2 separate regions of the Homo sapiens genome follow, and region 1 is linked to region 2. A link means that fine-mapping ties the variant in region 2 to the expression of a gene that starts in the linked region. Tissue or cell type: whole blood. Region 2 holds a variant in brackets; the other region holds the start of a gene. All regions are shown on one strand. Distances are from middle to middle.

Region 1 (9,578 bases), 49 kb before region 2:
CTTTGAAATAAGGAGATGGAAGCAAGGAATTCTAGCCCATGGACTTAATTTGCAAACAGTGCAAAACAACCTATTACGAAAAAAAAAAAAAAAGTCTGTGATAGGTTTAAGGAGAGTTGGGTCCTCAATCATCTGGCATCAAGAAAATCTTATTGCAAAGACACAGATTTTTATTATTCGTTACTGAATTTTGTCATAAGTAGCATGCTACTCTAATACATGTTGATTGCCTAGATAGCGGGAATAGTTCTTGTATATTTAAAATGTATTTACTTTTAAGTAATCAAGTTCCCCCTGCTTCCCCTTCCCCTGTAATCTTCCACCATTGTGGTCAGAACATGAGACTTATTGCTCAAAGAGGGGAGTATATGGCTTGGAGCTGCCACCCAATATGAAGGAAGAATCTTTCCTTTATTGGAGAAAGAGGCCAATGAATAAAGAGGAGGTTGCCGGGGAAAGCAAAGGCCAGGTAAAAACGTTTAATCCAAATCCCTCCCTTGGAGGTGAAACCCTGGAAGGCAGTTTGAGTTAGAAATAATAGAAATGTCCAGAAATGTTGGAAGAGGGGACTTGCAGGGCACCAGGATTTGGCCTTTACTTCCTGGGCAGAAGCCTTAGAAAAGGCTTGTGTTTGGTTGCTGCTGACCAACATGTCACTGAGTGTAAGATTCTGAGAGAAAGGGCACAGCATGTCTTGCATGCTGCTGGAGTACAAGGAAAGCATGCAGTTTCCAGAGTCCCCTGTGGGTGCAGAGCAGCCCAGAAAACTGGTGGGCAGGACAAGGCCTTTCTGGATGTCCAACAGCCCTGCTTTCTCCTAATCCATGGTCCCTCTGCTCAGATCCTTTTCCCAGTGTGAATTACCTCCTTACCCCTCCCTACCCAGGGAGCTTTAAAAAATATCCATGTGAAGAATCCACTACAGACTACTCAAATCAGAAACTCTGGGTGTTGGGGCCTGGTGTCAGTGTCAGATTTTTTTTTTTTTTTTTTTTTTTTGAGGCAGAGTTTCACTCTGTTCTGCCCAGGCTGTAGTGCAGTGGCACAATCTCCTCTCACTGCAATCTCTACCTCTCAGGTTCAAGCGATTCTAGTGCCTCAGCCTCCTGAGTAGCAAGATTTACAGGCATGCACCACCACACCTGGCTAATTTTTGTATTTTTAGTAGAGACAGGGTTTCACAATGTTGGTCGGGCTGCTATTGAACTACTGGTCTAAAGTGATCCACCCGCCTTGGTCTCCCAAAGTGCTGGGATTACAGGCCCAGGCATGAGCCACCATGCCCATCCTGGTGTCAGAATTTTTTTAAAGCCTCTTATTATTTTACTGCATAGCCAGGGTTGAGAACTGCTATCCTAAGTAGAGTCTAGTTATGTTTTAGACTTAAGTTAAATATCACTTCCTCAGGGATCCCTTTCCTGATCAGCCCTAGCCTAGGTCAAGTCCCCTTGTTATATATCCTCCAAGCAAGCACCCAGTACTTATCCTGTTTGGCGCTTAACAATTGGTCCATTATTTGTTTCAAGTCTGCCTTTCCTTGTTGACTACCTGCTGTGTGAGGGGAGACACATTTCTGCCCTTTTCACTAAATTGTTGAAGTCAGTCGTGTTCAAATTGTTGAACCTGCCTTGTTAAAATTGTTGAAGTCTAGTTCAACAATGCACTAAGTAGTACACAGTTCGTGCTCAGTAAAAACATCTTGAATGAATGATCTCCTTTACTCAGCCAGGAGTGTGTGACCAAGGCTCTCATTCATGAATCTGCTAAGAGACCTTTTGCAGGTGAGACCTTAAAGTACACCACATACATACTTACAGGACTATGGCTTTAGATCAGCTCATAGTTCCCACAGTTTTTCTGTTTCATCTTCATGTATCACAGCAGTTCAGCATGTCCATCATCACCATTACAACCCTGTGTGGTGGACACTACAAGTCCCATCTTGTATTTGGAAAGAAGTTGAATAACTTGCCCAGGTCTCTCTACCCTACTGTCTGGGCCCCTTTACAAACGGTTACAAATAAGGAAAATCCCTTTCAACAAGATACATTCCCAGGGTACCTGTTTGTGCTGAGCTTTTATTATTGGCTTGACAGCAGGCTGGTGGCTGCTTGCAGGGGATCTTCTGGGGGTCTCCAGTTACAGCAGCCAGGACCCAGTGTGCGACTTCAGGCCTTCCTAAACTGTTACAGGGTGCAGGCATCATTGGGCATTATCCATATAAGGATGCCACAAATACTATACCTTTCAAAGCCACTAAATTCACTGTGCCGCGCATATCCTGGGGAGAGGCAGCTGTGTGTGGGGGAGGGCGAGGGGACCGGGAGGGTGTAAGTAGAGTCCTCCAGATGAACCCCAGTCTTAATCTGGGCTGGGCAAGAGGACCATCCCTTCACCGCTCCCATCCTACATCCTAGGTTCCAACATTTACAGGCCCCTGGGTTGGACACCGACTTAGAGAGAGCACCCTGGATTCAGGCCTGGGTGGCTTGAATTGAGCCTCAGAAGAGCCGCGTCTGGAGTGGGCTCTCGACACCCAGGGCAAGTGGGGGCGGCAGAGCCCTCTCCTCGGTCGGCACAGCAGCCTCTGCCGCGGTCCCGGCCTGCGACGCGCCCAGTCTTAGCCTCCCGGCCTCCGGCGTCTGCTGAGTGTCCGGCGGGAGAGGCGCAGGGAGCGCGCTACCGGGAGGCGCGGGCAGCGGGGACTGGTTTTCTCTCGGGCCAGGGCCTCCGGGGCAACCGTCTCCAGCGCGCATTCTTGGTGCAGGTGGAACAGCTTTCTGCTCCGGTAGGGCTTCACCTATCGCGGGAGAGGTTAATCTCGGATCTAAACCTCGCAGCCGCAGAGCGGGCTAAAACCGCTACTCCACCTCTTCCCATTTCTCCCCTCCCCACCTCAAGACAAAAAGTCCCAGGCCGGGCAGGACCTGATCACCTCTGCCTCCTCCCACTGCGCTAATCCTGCGAGCGAGAGGCCCCGCACCGAGGCGGAGGCTGGCAAAGGGGAGTGGAAAGGGAGGATGGATGGGGCCGGGGGGTGGGGTGGTGATGAGGGCGACGAAGGAGGGGGTGTCATTTTCTTTTTCTTTCTTTTTTTAAAAAAAGTATTTCTCTCGCGAGAAACCGCTGCGCGGACGATACTTGAAGAGGTGGGGAAAGGAGGGGGCTGCGGGAGCCGCGGCAGAGACTGTGGGTGCCACAAGCGGACAGGAGCCACAGCTGGGACAGCTGCGAGCGGAGCCGAGCAGTGGCTGTAGCGGCCACGACTGGGAGCAGCCGCCGCCGCCTCCTCGGGAGTCGGAGCCGCCGCTTCTCCAGTGGGTGCAGCCGGGGTCCCGACGGGGGTCGGGCGGCCACCGGGGCTGGAGCTGCGGCCACGGAGGCTTTTGCGTTTGCGCCGCGCCGAGGGCAGGGACAGGGACTGGGGTGAGGGGCTGTCCCGGAACGTCCACAGCTGGCGCTGGCCCTCCCCTGCCTGACAGCTTCCTGGCCCGGGGCTCTTGGTGCCGGGCTCCGCGTCAGATGTTCGGGGGGCGGTGGCATCGCCCGGAGTCGGCGGGGACGGCGCGGCTGGCTTCCAGCCTGGCGGAGAGGGCAGGCTGAGGAGTGGGGCGTTCAGAGCGCGCATCGCGCGCAATTCGTGCCGCTAAAAAAAATAAACCCAGAGAGCTCGCCCGGGGCTTAGGACCGCTGGGGATATGGGTACTTTGCGCCGCGCTCTTCTGGCGGGGCCCGGGAGGCCGAGGGATCGGCCGGGGCTGCTGCCGCCGGGGGCCTGGGCTTTCCAGCCAGCTGTGGACCAAACGGTCTTCCCTTACCCAAATTAACTGCGCCACGCGCAGGCGGCGCACGGGTTGGGCTTGGGAATGGGGACCGCGAGGCTTCAGCATCCCGATGCCCTGAAAGTCTCCCCGCCTCGGGGATTTGTCTCTGTGTTGCAGCTGGCAGGGGCCGCCTGAAGTGGGAGCAGCGCCTGGAGAAGGCGGGAGGAGCCCGGCCCGGGGGACGGGCGGCGGGATAGCGGGACCCCGGCGGCGCGGTGCGCTTCAGGGCGCAGCGGCGGCCGCAGACCGAGCCCCGGGCGCGGCAAGAGGCGGCGGGAGCCGGTGGCGGCTCGGCATCATGCGTCGAGGGCGTCTGCTGGAGATCGCCCTGGGATTTACCGTGCTTTTAGCGTCCTACACGAGCCATGGGGCGGACGCCAATTTGGAGGCTGGGAACGTGAAGGAAACCAGAGCCAGTCGGGCCAAGAGAAGAGGCGGTGGAGGACACGACGCGCTTAAAGGGTAAAGGAACCGGTTCCCTCCTTTGGTGTGGGTCTCCCAAGTTTCAAGATCCAGAACAACGGGCAGGATGACTCTCCCTGTGGAAGACTCCTTGGCAAGACCTCCTGGGGGCACCTTAGAGGTGCTAGGGTTGTTTAGTCCCCACCCCGTTCGTGGTTAAACTACCTTGCCCCTACTCCCAGAGATTTCTGCCCCAAAGGAGAGGACGTGGTTAAATGGAATCTTGGGCCATTGTTGAGGCAGATTTTGGGAGGCGAGAAGAGTTCCTTGGGGAAGAAGGGGAGGAGTTGCGAGTGGGATAAGAGGAGAAGCCCGTTCCTTTCCCTGCAATATCAATTCTGGTTGTTTCTAGAGGAAAGTACTTTCCTTGGGGTCATCTTGGTAGATGCTGTATTTGAAAGGGGGCAAGGAAAGGAAGGGATTCCCATGACAGTCAGAGGAGAAATCACACAGTAGTTGACTCTTCCGTAAATTATGCTTATTAAAATTACGGATTGGGTTTTCTGGGCAATGCTTCCTTTAGATGTCTACATTGGAAGCAGAACAGGGCAAGTGGTTCTGAGAACTGGTTTTTTGAGTTGTGTGGGGCTCTCCGTTTCACTGCAGCAGTAAGGCTGCTGTGGCCGGCCTTAAGGGAGTATTTTTAACTAGTGGTGTTTGTGTTGTGTACATGCAACTGACCATTTCACTGGCTTCCCATGCCGCTGTTACAGATGTTTCAGCCGGAAAAATTTTAATTAGACTTGACTAAGGGTTGTCATTTTCCTGTATTGAAGGACAGTGGGAATACATTTCCTTTAAGAGAAATTTGTCTGCAGTTGTTTAAGTTAAAGCCTCCATGGAAACAACAGGATGGACTGTCAGTGACCCCTTTTATCTTCTTGGAGGAGCCTGTTAAATAAATTCAGACAGTATATATAGGGAGATTTTGTATTAAATTCTTACCATTCTCGCTGATGCTCTTTTCCTGAGTGGTTCTGTAGCTTTATTATATAGCTCTGGGTCACCAAGTGATGGTATCCACTTGGATATGTGGCTGTTCATTTCACTTACTCTTTTTTTGTTATGAGGTGTTATAGTCATGTATATGTAGTAAAATTTGTGTTTGTATGGCCCAGATATGAGAAGAAAAAGTAAACTCACCAGACCAGTTTTTGACTCCTAGTCTGGAGTAAGGACAAGATGATTGTATGAGCCAAGCACTTAGGCTGTGATAAAATAGCACAGAAAATAGTTATGATTAATTCGGTTCCATCTTGGCCTTCGTGGAAAATAAACCCAGAATTCCGATAATGTTGGAAGGAAGTTTGCTTATCATGGTAAACCTGACCTTGATCAGACAGCAGATGTTTATTGCCCTGTGTGCAAGGCACATGGCAAGTTCAATAAGTAGACTGAGGCTCTGATTTTCATATGTTCTCAAGAGGACCTCATTTAGTCCAGTATTTTTCCTTCAAAAATACATTTCTCCTACATAATAATATCTTAATATCTATTCTGATAGGATTGCTCCTGTATATAAAGGACGTGGGGATTTAATTCTGTGGCTGAAGATCTGCAGAGAGGTGTGAGGCCTGGTCAGACATTTGTCTCATTTCTCTGGGCTGTCACCAACTAGTGTGTTCCCTTGGGAATGTGAAAAAAGAAACTAAGCTTTACTTTGTTGCTTAACAGGATGCCACACTTTTACTCACACTTGTGCTTTTTCTCTCTGGTTTTAAATTTGTTTGTGATTATAGAGAGATACCTCTCTGTGCTCCTCACAGTATTTGATCATTAACACAGACCTTATCCTATTGTAAACTATTTATAAAGCCTTCCTAAAAACAGGGTATTAATAGAATTGTAATTATGTGTGTTCCTAATTCTCATGTTAATTATAAGATTTTATAATAAGTGATATATATATATACACACACACACACACACACACATACACGGGGGTGAAAATAATAATTTAAAAATATATACAATTAAAAGTATTTCCCTGCCACCTTTCAGAGACCATTTTCTTGTGTATTTTTCTATAAATCTTTTAGGCATATGTATACATGTACAAATAAACACAAATATATATGTATACATACACATGTGTGTGTGTATCCTTTTTAATACATGGAATGTATTGTACATGCAATATTCTGAACTTTACTTACTTTTTATGTATCTTTAATGCATCCATCTATTAACTCATATGGATCTACCTCATTCATTTTCTTTCTTTTTTTTTGAGACACAGTCTTGCTCTGTTGCCCAGGCTGGAGTGTAGTGGTGCAATCTTGGCTTACTGCCTCCACCTTCCCGGCTCAAGCGATTCTCCTGCCTCAGCCTCCAGAGTAGCTGGGATTACAGGTGGGTGCCACCAAGCCCGGCTAATTTTTTGTATTTTTAGTAGAGATGGGGTTTCGCCATGTTGGCCAGGATGGTCTCAAACTCTTGGCCTCAAGCGATCCACCCACCTCTGCCTCTCCAAATTACAGGCTTGAGCCACTGCGCCCTACCCCATTTTCTTGTTGTATAGAACCTCATTATGTCACTGGAACAGTTCCCTAGTGATGGCTCTTTAGATTACATTGAGTCTTTTGCTATTACCAACTTTCTTCTGCATACCTGTGTTTACATACACGTGTTTATATGTGGTATAAATTAGTAAAAATAGAATTGCTGGATCAAAGTCTTTCCCATAGATTTTAAGCAAACCCCAATTCTTATGTTAAATTTGAATAACATTTTAAATTTATTCCCTCTGCTTATTGCCGTTACAGTCTCATATGAATAAATCCTTTAACGGTGCCCTGCTGTATAAATCATCAGAAAAAGCAGTTATGTACTACATTTTTCCAGTTATTGCTTAAAATTTCTGTTTTTGTCTGTTAAAATATTACCGGCTTCAAAACTCACCTCTTTGACTACAGTGAAACCTGTTTACCATTCTGATTGGAGATGCACAGTTTATGAAGTGAAAGTGATTTGTAACCCCCGAGTCTGCCTGATGCCCAGTTGGTGGCAGCAACTTTCAGCACCTCACTAATCTTTCCTCTAGTTAAAAGGTACCTTAAACTCATCAGTATCTGCTGTGCACTGGTTCCTTCTCCCCAGCAAATACTGCCTTCTTGTTTTTCTCTGATGTGGCAGGTGACTACAAAATCCGCCTTGGTATTCTTCAAATGCATATATATTCCTTTCTTGTCAGCTCCCTCTCTTCCTAGATTAGAAAACTGCCTCATTTTCTGCTCACTGGATGTGCAGTCCCAGCTTGTCTTCCTCTCCTCCCCCCCTGTTGCAGGTGTTCTTTTTTTTTTTTATTCTCTCCCCACTGGGCAGCAAAAGTTGTTCCACAGTGGAAATTTAGGCATCCTCAAGTTTCTTCCCAGCTTCTGCTGTGTTTTCTTAGAGTAAATTGCCAATTTCTGTTTTTACAGGAAATCCTTTTTTAAAAATGGAATCAGTGTGGTCCCCATCTACTCTGCAAAAATTGCATTTTTCTCTATTTTCAAATGAGATTTGTTCAAGTTTCAAAACCACGTGAAATAATAAATGTATAGTAGTTTTCTTTTCCTTGGGCATTGCTTGATATGTGAAATGGGTTTATGAAAAATAATAAAATCATAACGCTATTTGTTTGACTTTCAATTCATGGGAATTTTTCTCAGCTAAACTCTAAATGGTGATTAGGCAAAAAGTGTGGGAGACAGTCCAAAAAAAAAAAACTCAACTGTACTTGAATAGCAATAGTTATGCACCATTTATTTATGATTGCCTTATTGCTTTAGCTCCCAAGTAAGGAAATATTACTGTTTCCTGTCAAAGGGGGAAAAGTTCTTCACAGTGAGATCTCCTTTCCCAAACCTTGGAGAAGATGGATTGAGACTTCTGCCCTTGTTGTGTGGTTTATAGGTACATGAGACCAGTTGTATTTGACACAATTTGTCCCCTTGTGTGTGATTCCTTTTGGTCTTTGTTTATTTGTTTATTTTTTTCCAGAGGTCTTGTTGCCAGAAAAATACACATGGAACAGTTCATACCCATGGTAGATTATGTGATGGCAAACTCCAAGGGATTAGTTATGTAGAAGTCTGTTATTAAAATAAAGAACTGTAATAGGGAATACAGAAAAAGTTCTGTAGACTTTATAAAGTCCATTTTACTTTATAAAGGGGACTTTAAGACTTCACCTGAAGTCAGATGGGCTAATAATTAAATATGGGGAAAGACTCCTGCAGGGGTATGGTTTACATTTATTGAAAAGATTAAGCTAAAATATTGGGACACAATTTTTTTTTAAAAAAGGATATAGTGTTCTTAAATAGAAGATTTCAGCAATTCCACACATGAAACAAGAAGGTAGAGACAAAATATTTATTTATGTGACTCATTTTGTAACATTGAAGACATAGAGGTTGTTTATAAAAATGTGTAAGTTGGTAATACAAATTAATTAAAACATACATCAGCCTATGGTGAAATGAGATGAGAGCTGATGGAAATGGAGTACAGACTTCCCTTCAACCTTATTTGGAATTTTAAAGAATATTAAAATGTTCCTTTATCGTCTTGTGTAGCATATACTTTAAAAATTATAGTATTATACTGATGACTCTAATCAAGCAAAATACTAAAAAATTATTAGAGTATTCATGTACCAGTTTGTTGGCTTTTTCTTCCAGTAAGCCAATCAGCCTAACCACTTTGGGAGTTTTAGCTTTATTTTCAATGTGAAAATAAGATTTTACAAATGTTTTCTTGAAAGAGAAATACATTCTTTTAACAATTTCTTTGTTTTTAAACATGAACCCAGCAAATGGGCCTGCTTAAGCAACTTAGAATTTTTTCCCATGAGATTCTTTGAAGAAACCGACATCAATAATATATCAGGCCTGAGTTATGTGGCCTAACTCAGGCACATGATAGTTTAGCGTTTCATGATTGTTCAAGTCGATTTTCTCATTAGATAGTTAAATCATTGAAGACAAGAATCCTATTATAAGCATTTTACCACTAACTCATCATTAAGTGGGGTTTCAGAAAGTTCATTAATTCAGGAAGTCTTGATTGAATGCTAGCTTGAGTTTAGTTCTGTGGAAGGCCAGAGACATATACCCCATAACCCTGGGGGTACTTCAGGAACCGTGAGTGCACAGAAGGACAGCGTCCCTGGAAAGGGGGTCTGGTATTAAGTCTAAACAAATACATAATAACAATTGCAGCCATGGTAGGTAACATTTAGGTAACATCTATATGTTACTAAGCACTATATGTTGCTAAGCACTGTTCTTACTGTTTTGCATATGA
Region 2 (10,892 bases):
TAAGTTGCAAAAGTGAATTCTTCTTCTTTTTTTTCAAGTACAACACTGCAATATTCGCTGTATGAATGGAGGTAGCTGCAGTGACGATCACTGTCTATGCCAGAAAGGATACATAGGGACTCACTGTGGACAACGTAAGTACACTGTAGTTATAAGTATTCTAGATGTTAACCTGTTTGTAGACAAGTAGAATAAAGAGATAAGTGCTGATGGATTTTCTTCGATTACCTGGGACACAGCATGTTTACAAGTGTCCAGTGACCTTTACAGATGAACAAATCACTTACTCAAAAAACTTAACACCAAATTTCCAATTGGAACCTTGATTGGTTACAGGTTGTTTGATTCATTTTCCTCTCATTTACCTTCACCACCTTGCTTGCCTGATCTCCTTGATTTCTAGTCACCACCAAAGGAGCAGAATTCTTGTTCATTCCAGACACATACCTTCCACCCACTTGCTGAACTTCAACACTTGGATTTTCAGGAAGCATCTCAAATAAAGTATTTCAAAACTCAGCCTCATCATTCTCTCTAAACATGTCCTTTATCTTGATTGGTGGTATCTGCATCCCTCTCATTTCCTAATCTAGATTCTGCTACCGAAGTACTTATCACATGGTGTTCAGTTTGAAGGTTCATTTGCACACACCATTTATTGTATCTACTTTCTACCAGTCCCTGTGCTTTGCAGAAGACGAACATTCTTTTTAAAAACCTTGTTTTTTTTTTTTGTTACTTTAAGATGAGCATATATACCCTACAGAAAATTTGGAAAAGTTTAAAAATACAAAAAGTAAAATTATTCGTGATTTCATCATTCCAGATAGTATCTTCTAGACTTGTAATGCATATTTGGTACATGAGTTCTTACTGTATATATAGTTTTTGTACCACTTTTTCACTTAATACTTTATTCAAAGTATGCTCATTACACATTTTAAAATACATTTTAATGGTTGCCTAGTACTCTATTACCTGGATGTTTGACTGTTTATTTAATGAATCCTCAATGGTGGGCGTTATTCAGGGCGTTTCTAATTTTTGCTTTTGTGTATATATTTATTAGGATTAATAATGTTATTATAAATAAACAAAAATGTAGAGAATGCCCTAGTGACCATCTGTGTTAGTCTGTTTTCATGCTGCTGATAAAGACATACCCAAGACTGGCCAATTTATAAAAGAAAGAGGTTTATTGGACTTACAGTTCCACATGGCTGGGGAGGCTTCATAATCATGGTGGAAGGCAGGGAGCAACAAGTCACGTCTTACATGGATGGCAGCAGGCAGAAAGAGCTTGTGCAGGAAAACTCCCCCTTATGATAACCATCAGATCTTGTGAGACTTACTGTTATGGGAACAGCATGGGAAAGAGACCTGCCCCCATGATTCAATTACTTCCCACCTCCCACAACATATGAGAATTCAAGATGAGATTTGGGTGGTGACACAGCCAAACTGTATCACCATCCACACACTGCAGTGGGAGAAGAATATTGGTTGAGTTTTGTGTAGCCCAGCCTGGAGAGAGGAGAGGCAGCCTCCGCAGTGTGGGTGATCCTTGGGCTGAGTCTTGAGGGATGGGTAGGAGCTTACCTGTCAGGTGATGGGGAATGGACCTTTTTGGGCAGATGGTAGAGCATGACCAAAGCACCAGCACAAGACACAGCAAGGGATGTGGGACATAGCAAGTGCTTTGGTGTTGCTAGAGCTTAAATGCAGAGGAGAGTGAGGGGAAAGGAAGTAAGGTCAGATAGGATGTCATGGGCCAGGTTTTGATGCCTTTATACATACTATGTTTTCTTCCAAAGTAGGGCTAGGAAAGAAGAGTGAGACCACAACAATAAACAACACTAACAACATCAATAACCTACATCTTTTCAGTTACTCTGTGCTTACTGTGTGCTAGGCACATTTTAGAACTCTATGTGTGTTAACTCATTTAATATGACAACAACTCTTTGTATTAGAGGACATAAATGTTACCCTCTGGCAGATGAGGGAACTGGAACACAGGGACCTCAGTAGTTCCTCTAAGGGTATATAGATGGTAATCGGCAGAGTTGGGGTTGGAACCCAAGCAGTCTGACTCCATAGCCCATGTGTTTACTCTTGTGAAATACCAACCTTATTACCCTTCACTTACGAAGGTTTACAGTGAGAAAGATCACAGTGTGGAAGCGCAACTGGAGGAGGACAAAACAGGAGCAGGAAGACAAGTCCTAACTAAGGCTATGGCTGTGGAGATGGCGAGATGGGGCTGGATCCCAAGGCATTCCAGGAGAATCAGGAGGGGCTGCTGGGCATCTCTTCTGCTCCCCTTGGTGCTCCCTGAGGGAGTTTAGCCCAATGCCCAACACACAAGTGCTTAATTAACACTGGCAGAATTAGAAAACTTTTCCTAAACTTCAGCTTCCTCATCTGTAATCTGGGAGGGTTGGCTTAGGCAAGCTCAAAATTTCTTTTCTGTTTAGAAGCTCTTCATTCTCCCTGACTATAAATCAAGAGGCAAAGAAGACAATTAATTTACATAAACCTCTCTGGTTATATGATGAGTAATGGCCTCCTGCCATAATTTTTGGTTAAAAAGGGTTGTGTCAGTTCAGGTCCTCTTATGCCAAGAAAATATCAAGACAGAATTAGACATAAAAGAGAATTTATTGGGGAAAAGACCCGTGAAGAATAAAGGAAAGAGGAAGCAGAAGTAGGAGGGAATGGTCTTCAGACCATGATGCCTGTCTGATCCTGTGCAAGGAGGGAGGGAAGGAAGGACAATTGCATAGAAGGAACTTCAGCCTGTAGTGCAGCTCCAAAAAGCCATAGCCAGGTTGATGGAGAACCCAGGGCAAAAAGTGCCCATCAAAGAGTTCCATGATGGGTGGAAATAGCCAGGCTTTAGTATCCTAATGCTGTGTTTAGTCATTGGCTGTGAGCCTGCCCTTGACATGAACATTGCAGCAGATCTGAAGGTACAGCAGCTGGAAGTGGTCTGCCAGCTAAACTTGCAGGAGATTCTCTTGAGGGAAAGTATGAGTGGCTCAACTTCATGGCTGCTATAGGGTAATGTATGGAAAAATGTATAGAAAATATATAAGGAGCAAGGAATTTGAATGGAGGTTTTGGGGGAGCCTCATGGAGCAGTAAGATTTCAGCTGGGCTTTGAAGAGTGGGTGGAACTGACATATTTGGCAGAGAAGAGCCTGCCACGCATGACGAAGATGCCTAGAAAGAGCCCATGCATGCACGAGTTACAGGAACTTGTACAAAGAGGAGTTGTTCAGCACATGAACTTTCAATTCTTATTTTAATGTCATTTCTAACAAGCAAAATATCCTGCCCTGAAGCATCTCTAGATTTACTGCACCAATAGTTTCCGTAAGTTCTGTTATAACTCTCAATTGGATTTTCATTATGGTACTTAAATTACTGAAGATCATTAGTAGTATTTTGTTGTTTGCAGTTAATTGTGCAATTGAAC[T/A]TGCTACATTTCTGTAATGGTGACATCAGAGGGGCTGATATTTCCCCTCATGGGAGCCCTGTTGCAATTAAACGTAAATCATAAGCAAAAGAGTCTTTGCTAACACACAGTTCCCATTCAGTGACATCTCTTAGAAACCACTGTTTTCGAGGTTAAACTGAAAGCATTGCTCAGATGCTTCACGGAATGAGACCATCAGCATTAACATAGATACAAACTCATCTATTCCAGGCAGCTTTACCTAAGAGTGGACTGAGGAATATCTGAGTATGTGTAACTGTAGAGTGACCGTCCAAAACAAACACCAGGGTGACTTTAGACATTTTATTGTTGTCCTTCCAGAGGACCACAAGTGTTACTTCATTAGCATTTATTTTCAGGTAAAGCGTCTCAGCTCTCTCCTTATTTTACAGCTGTTTGTGAAAGTGGCTGTCTCAATGGAGGAAGGTGTGTGGCCCCAAATCGATGTGCATGCACTTACGGATTTACTGGACCCCAGTGTGAAAGAGGTAATGGTTTTTAAAATCATTTACGTAAAGACATGCTGGTACCTAAAGCTGTTACTAATTTGCACAGACATTGGGTCTGCATGGCTACTTCCTGAATGTTGCTGAGCTTTGAGGGGATTTCTCATTTGTCATTGGGAAGGTCCCTAGGATGACAAGACAGCGGCCCTGAATCTATGCATGATATTCGGCAATGTTTGTCAGTCCAAGTTTACCTAAATTCAGTTATTTGCTAATTTGGTGGTACTCAGTTATGAGTGTATACATAATTACCAGTTGGCATCAGGATAAAAAGGGGAGAACTTTCTTCTGTAAGGGTAAGGATTAAGCTCTTTATTATGCCAGTGAATTAAGTGGTCTTGAACAAAACATATGTATGGAAAGGGAGAATTTCAGTATGAAAAGCACACCTAAAGATCTGTTGGACCTGTTGGGGGCTGTAGAGGTGTACAAGCTCAGCATTCAACACTCACCATAGATATATTGAGTGTCTGCTGAGAAGCTACTTTGTGTAGATGGTTTATTCAGTACTCATCGCAGCCTGCTAGAGTGTGTAGAATTATCCTTAATTTTGCATATGAGAAGATGAAGGCACAAAGAGGTCCAGGGATGTCCCCAAGGCCACATACATAAGAAACCTTTAATTTGAATGTGTGTTTTGTCTCTTCAAGTCTAATGTTTACTGCTGCTCTTAATTAAAAGAAACATTCTACCTGATTTGCCTACCTAAAAATACAAGTATGATATTGAGATATGTGTGGATATGCAATATTCTTAAGTTTTTTTCCCTGAACTTTGGTCTTACTAATAATCTTGTCTCTACATTTATAGATTTTTTTCTCATCATCCCTAGTTTTATAATGAAAGTTTAGAAGTTTTATGTTACACAAAACTGTAATTGAAAATTTGCATGAACTTTTAAACTGCAGTAATCACTTTTAGCCAAAGTTGTATAGACATCTTATTCTAAGATGGAAAGTAAAGATTCAGTAGCAGATGTTGAATATGTCATTTAAAACATGTAATAGAGGAAAACAAAGAGCAGAGAGTGGTTTGTGAGAAATTATTTTCTGTCTGTGTTTATAATTTATCTAAATTCAGTTATTTGCTAATAATGCAGTAATACCTATTTGAGCAAGAAATTCCAGGTCGATTACTTTGATTACTAGGTAAATTACATTGTATCTCTATTAATGGGACCACTGCATGGTATTGATGTGTAATGCATAATAGACCTTTACATTGCATGTTGATATCCTTTAGGAGTCCCTCCTTAAACTGCTTCTCTTTACAACTTGCACAGATGTGTTTTTATTCGCTAATAATTATAATGGTCCAGAGTACTAAAAACTATTTCTTCTAGGCAATATCATTCTGTGGCCTTATTACTTAATCAGGGAAGTTGTAGGAGATTAAAATTGTTAATGTGTAGCTTGAGGAGTGGTGTGTGAAAATAATTTCTCAGATGATAATGCTGGGCATAATTTGTTTTAGAAAAATCACTAATAAGATGAAGTTACAGGGCATTTTACCTGTAACATTTTACCTGTAACCATTTTAACAAAGTGGTTAAAGATTTGCTGCAAAGACTATTGATGCTCATAGTTGATATTGATGATAACACAGTCTAAAATAAAGGGCATGATATTGAACCATTCCACAGTGATTTCTTCAAAGATTTGATCTTTGTCCAAGATTAAGAAATGTCCTGAATGGGTTAAATTACTAAGCTACTAATCAAAACTGGCATGTTACTCAGAGGTTTCTCCAAGTTTGGGGGTGTCTTCAACTGCTCCCCTTCAGGAAAAAGGGCTATCCTGAAATCTGCACTAAGGTGTAAATATCTGTTGACTCCATAGAATTTTCCCAGTGGTGATTTTCAAAATCAAATTCATCCCCAAGTGGCAGATTTTCAGGCATTTGTGGTAGTGGAGACTGGAGAGCAGAAGGCAGGCTTGCCCGTTAGTAGCAGAAGGGTAGTGCCATCTACCCACTGCCTGTTTTACCCACGGGTACAGTCCCAGACCTTCAATGGGAGAAGAAAAACATGGGTGTCATTTCCCACACCACATGGGAGAGAGGAGTCTTTTTGATTCCAGAATTCTATTTCCATTTGTAGAGTCTTCACTGTTTGCTGCTCTTATGAAAGTCACCTGCTTACCTCTTTGAAGAATTAGAGGCAGTAGATTCTCTTACTTAGATGTATGTTCGTGATTTCAAGAGTGATGAATAAAAATCTGATACCGAGTCAGGACAGATCCATCCTGAAGTGTGGGGAAGTATTCAGGGTGACTTCCGATGGTGGGTTGGTATACTTATTGTGGTGCTTATTACTGGATAAGTACCTAGGTTGGTTGTATTCTGTTTTAACTGGGATGTGATGTTTATTTTTTAAAGTGCAGATCCGGGAGGCCTTTACTACTTTCCTTTCTCCCTTCATCTACATTTTCCCTTAGTACTCTCTCCACATCTCTTTTTATAGCATTTACTGCATTGCATCAAAACAGCAAGTTTCCAATCTCCCTCACTAGAGCATAAGTTTTCAGGAGCAACTATAGTTTCTTCATCTTCTTAATTCTAGCCTTACTGTGTGATGCACAGTACACGACCCATAGATGATGAACTGGATTCATTTAATAGCATCAAAAAATCTGGAGATATAATGATCGGATATGAACAAGTATCTCCTGGAAATAATTGCTGTTTGCCAACAGTCCTGGATATTGATTTCATTGGTTTCATGCTAAACAGAGCTGATTACAATGTTGATATCTAATTGAATTTGGTCCCATCTTTCAGAAGAATGATCTTTCAGGTCCACAAGACTGTCATTTTTCAGTTAACAGGGATGCAAAAAGGAGGAATGTTTTGATCAAAACTAAGTGGCAATAAAAACAAAAGCAAAAACCTCTTATCATGATATAATACACATGTAAGGGAACATTTAGAATGTCAGTTACAAGTACTTCTCAGGATAAAGATCTATGTCCCTGGGAGACCTTGGAACTTTTATACATTAATAACTACCTCAGAGACCCACTATGAGTGTGAAATACGCCTTTGGGGGTCATACTGGCAGGATTTGTATCACATTAAGCCAATAAGTCAATCTTAATCATCCATGAACATAGTATTTTGGTTTTGTGATGGAGAGAAGCAGCAGATCTCATGCTTGAATTATGAATCATAATAGTCATATAACAGTGTAATAAGATTATAAAGCAATTAGTCTTACTTGCAGCTTTTTGTCATTAAGATAAGTTTGTTTAAAAACATTCTTGGCTGGCCAGCCTCATCCCCAGTGGGCAGGTAGCAATGATATATTTTACCATTGCCACTACCATTGTTTCTCTACACCCAGAGGATAAAAAATAGAGACCTGTGGCTTATTTGGCCTGTGATGTCTACTTTTTAAAAGCTGAATAGGAATACCTTTAAATACATCTTCTAGTTTGTCATAGTCCCCACCACTACCTATTGTCACATCTTGCTCAAGTTCATTCATTTAGCTTAGGTATTAGCCCTTGTGAGCATTCAAGTTTGCCACCTCCTGCTGCTTTCTCTGTCAAAGATTGTGTCTTTATTTTTTTTAACCACAAGTTTCTTTAATTTTTCTTCCTGTCACTTTTTTTTGGTAAGTTCACATTTGTGGTTTTCTTGTTGCCTCCTACTCCGACCCTTTGCCTTCTCTTTGCTTGGGCCTTGAGCAACTAGTAGAACTTAATCACTTCTTAGCTCAGTGGTACAGTATGTTAGCATTTGTTATCAGATTATTGAAGTGAGGTCAGTGCCTGTTTTGGCAATGACAATACAAGCTAGTCGTATATTGCCATAGTTACTGCTAACAAAAAAACTGTGTGGAATCCCTTTCTCTTGCCATCTTGCCTCAGAATGCACATTTAAAATCTTGTTAAATGCCTTTGTATTAAACACAGTGAATCATATGAGTGGATGAGACTTTTCAGGGTCATGTCAAAAGAGAAAAGAATGATGGAGATAGACCTGAACTTGGAGATGGGGGTGGGGTGTGATGATGAATAGGCTTAGGGAAGAAGAGAAACAAAGAGATACAGCAAGAGAACCAGGAGAGCATTGAACCAAACAAACAAAAAGGAGTTCAAGAAATAACTTGGCAATTGTTAGACTCATCGAAGGTCTGAGAATGAGAATCATAAAGCGGCCATTGGACGTAAGAACAGCTGACATGTACTGAGTACTTGCAGTGTGCCAGGGGGTGTGCTAAGCACTTCACTTTGATGATTTGCAACAACCTTATGAGAAAAGTCCTGTAATAAGTCCCATCTTATGGAGGAATAAGCAGAGGCAAAGAGAGATCAAGTGCCTTGTCCAAGAAGGGACAGCTTATAAGTGGTAAAATAGAGGCCTGAACCTAGACATTCTGGCTCCTAAGCCTGTGCACATAGCCACTGTGTAGTACTTGGACTTCACTGGAAAGGGGCCACTCGTAACTCTAAAGACCTCACTGGAAAGGGGCCACTCATAACTCTAAAGACCTCACTGGAAAGGGGCCACTCGTAACTCTGAAGACCTCACTGGAAAGGGGCCACTCATAACTCTAAAGACTTTTCTGAGGAACGGTAAGAAGAAACCTAGAACTATGAATCTTAGAATGGAAGTCAAGATGAAAAGGCAAAAGAAAGGATTCTTGCATATTCTTGGATGTTTCAAATGTAGGGTTTTGGAATATTCCTCTATTTGATTGATTTCAACGTACGAATCTGCTCTTGGAAAGAGAGAGATTCCTGTGTGTTTACAGGACATATAAATGTGCTCCAAAGGACTGAACTAACATGCCTGGAAGTAGACATATGGAATGAATATTGTCATTTAGTGCAGTTATCATGGAAAGTTATATCATTTTCTTGTAATATTACAACAGCTCAAAATGTGTTTGGAACTCTTTTTTGGAGGTGCCTTTACAGAATCAGCAATACATTCAAATCAGTGTGTGATTTTTTTTTTTCCCTTTTGAGGAGGCATTTGAGTTTTCAGAAACAGCCTACAGTAATTTACTGTTAATTCTAGTGACTACAGTGGGTAATCACACATTTTAGCTGTTTGGGATCAAAAGCAGACTTAGATTTAAAAAATACTAAAAATAATTTTCTCATGTGGTTCATAAAGCACATGGAATTGGTTTAATGTTTTAATGTCAAACTTTATGTGAGCCAGAGGATGAAGCCTTTTGGAAGCATAAATGCAAATAGCAAGAAGTTTTCTCTCATTTCTCCATCTGAAGCTGCTCATCATGTATCCTCAGAATATTAGCATGCACGTGGACTCTTCTAAATCCTGGTGCATTTGTTCTGTGTTAAATTCCTACCCAAGTCTAAACTGTGAAGACAATACTTGGATTTCTGCCAACTTAAGAAAGTCTGTTGGCTGTTATGCTGGCTATCAGTAGATAAAGTATAGGGGAAAGCATTGTTGAACTGATAGCCTTAAGGAAAAGGAACAATTGGGGCCAAAGTGGAGTAGAATAAAAATGAGAGGATTGAAATAATCCTTAGTTCATTAGAGAAGCAGAACAGTTGAAAGTGAACTAGCTCTTCATGCAGGTACTTGCTTCCTAGGAAATTACAGTCTTAATGAAGCTGAAAAGGTTTTTGTATTTGTTAGCACAACAATGAAACAGAATAGAACAAACAACAGCTAGGTTGATTGTAATTCCACCTCCTTCTTATATGTGCAGTTGACGTTTGAGAAACTTGTCCTCACACCTTGTTTCTCTGATGATGTAAAAATGATTTTGCACAGATATCTTTCTAATGATTTTATTGAATGACTTTCAAAAATACTACATTAAGCAGTTGATAAACACATATTATATAAATCCAAAAAGGCAGCATCTATACTGTGTCTAGTGAATGGAAAGGACTAACATGTAATTATCCAAATATATAATAATCAGATAGTCCATTTTGGAAACACCTGCTTCGAAAAAGAAAGTAAAAACTTTACCTTATCTCAAGACCTGTTTAGAGAGCTTCATGGAATCAGGAGCTGATTTTCCTGTGCTTTTTTTCTCCTGGTGTTTTTCAGGAAGGTATTAATAAAATACAGATTCATTATTATTTTTTCTCTATGTAGAAGTAAGTTTTACAGAGCTGCATTTCTGACACGAATTTTACATAATTTTAAATTGTAGGTGGCTATCACTAAAGTTCCCAAGGTAATGCCACAGGCTAACTCCCATTCTCCATGTGCCTTTGGAAGGCAGAGCTCTGTGAACTATGTATATTTTCTTCTTTCCAAAAGCAAAAGGCAGTAAACTGTCATTACTAAACTACACTGAAGGCCTCTATGAACCTCTCTTTTGGTATTTAGTTTCAATGGAAAGTAACAATGTGGCAGGGCGTGGTGGCTCACGCCTGTAATCCCAGCACTTTGGGAGGCCGGGGCAGGCGAATCACGAGGTCAGGAGATCGAGACCATCCTGGCTCTACTGTGAAACCCTGTCTCTACTACAAATAGAAAAACAAAATTAGCCGGGCGTGGTGGTGGGCACCTATAGTCCCAGTTACTCGGGAGGCTGAAGCGGGAGAATGGCGTGAACCCAGGAGGTGGAGCTTGCAGTGAGCCGAGATCACGCCACTGCACTCCAGCCTGGGCGACAGAGCGAGACGCCATCTCAAAAAAAAAAAAAAAAAAAAAAGAAAGTAACAATGTGTAGATAGCAGGGGCACAATGCCCTAAATGTTACTGTGCGTCTACAGTGGTATTGCAACATTTGTGGCAGCTGGTGGATCACTGAATAAACTAGATTTTCCTAGAATAGTTCCAGGAATTGCATCTTTTGACACACACACTCGTTTTTTTGTGGCTGGGTAACTGTATACACTGAGGGCACACATGCTCCTCTGTCTCGCAGGCTGCACATATGT

The links.
Region 1: it holds the start of FBN1, and the variant in region 2 is fine-mapped to the expression of FBN1 in whole blood (TOPMed, PIP above 0.99).

Annotation. Positions count from the first base shown.
Region 1 is chr15:48,639,314-48,648,891 of GRCh38, reverse strand. FBN1 (fibrillin 1) reads left to right here and starts at 3,183. Exons shown (of 66, transcript NM_000138.5): 1 at 3,183-3,317; 2 at 3,942-4,286. The coding sequence starts at 4,123. FBN1-DT (FBN1 divergent transcript) reads right to left here and starts at 3,087. Exons shown (of 2, transcript NR_183872.1): 1 at 2,062-3,087. RefSeq lists enhancers at 3,019-3,108, 2,621-3,145 and silencers at 3,219-3,298, 3,339-3,518, 3,929-4,058, 4,159-4,208.
Region 2 is chr15:48,589,381-48,600,272 of GRCh38, reverse strand. FBN1 (fibrillin 1) reads left to right here. Exons shown (of 66, transcript NM_000138.5): 5 at 39-134; 6 at 3,895-3,990. Among named protein-coding and RNA genes, the nearest start is that of FBN1, 51 kb to the left of the region's middle. RefSeq lists an enhancer at 4,025-4,194. The variant T/A (reference allele first, on the strand shown) is at 3,482.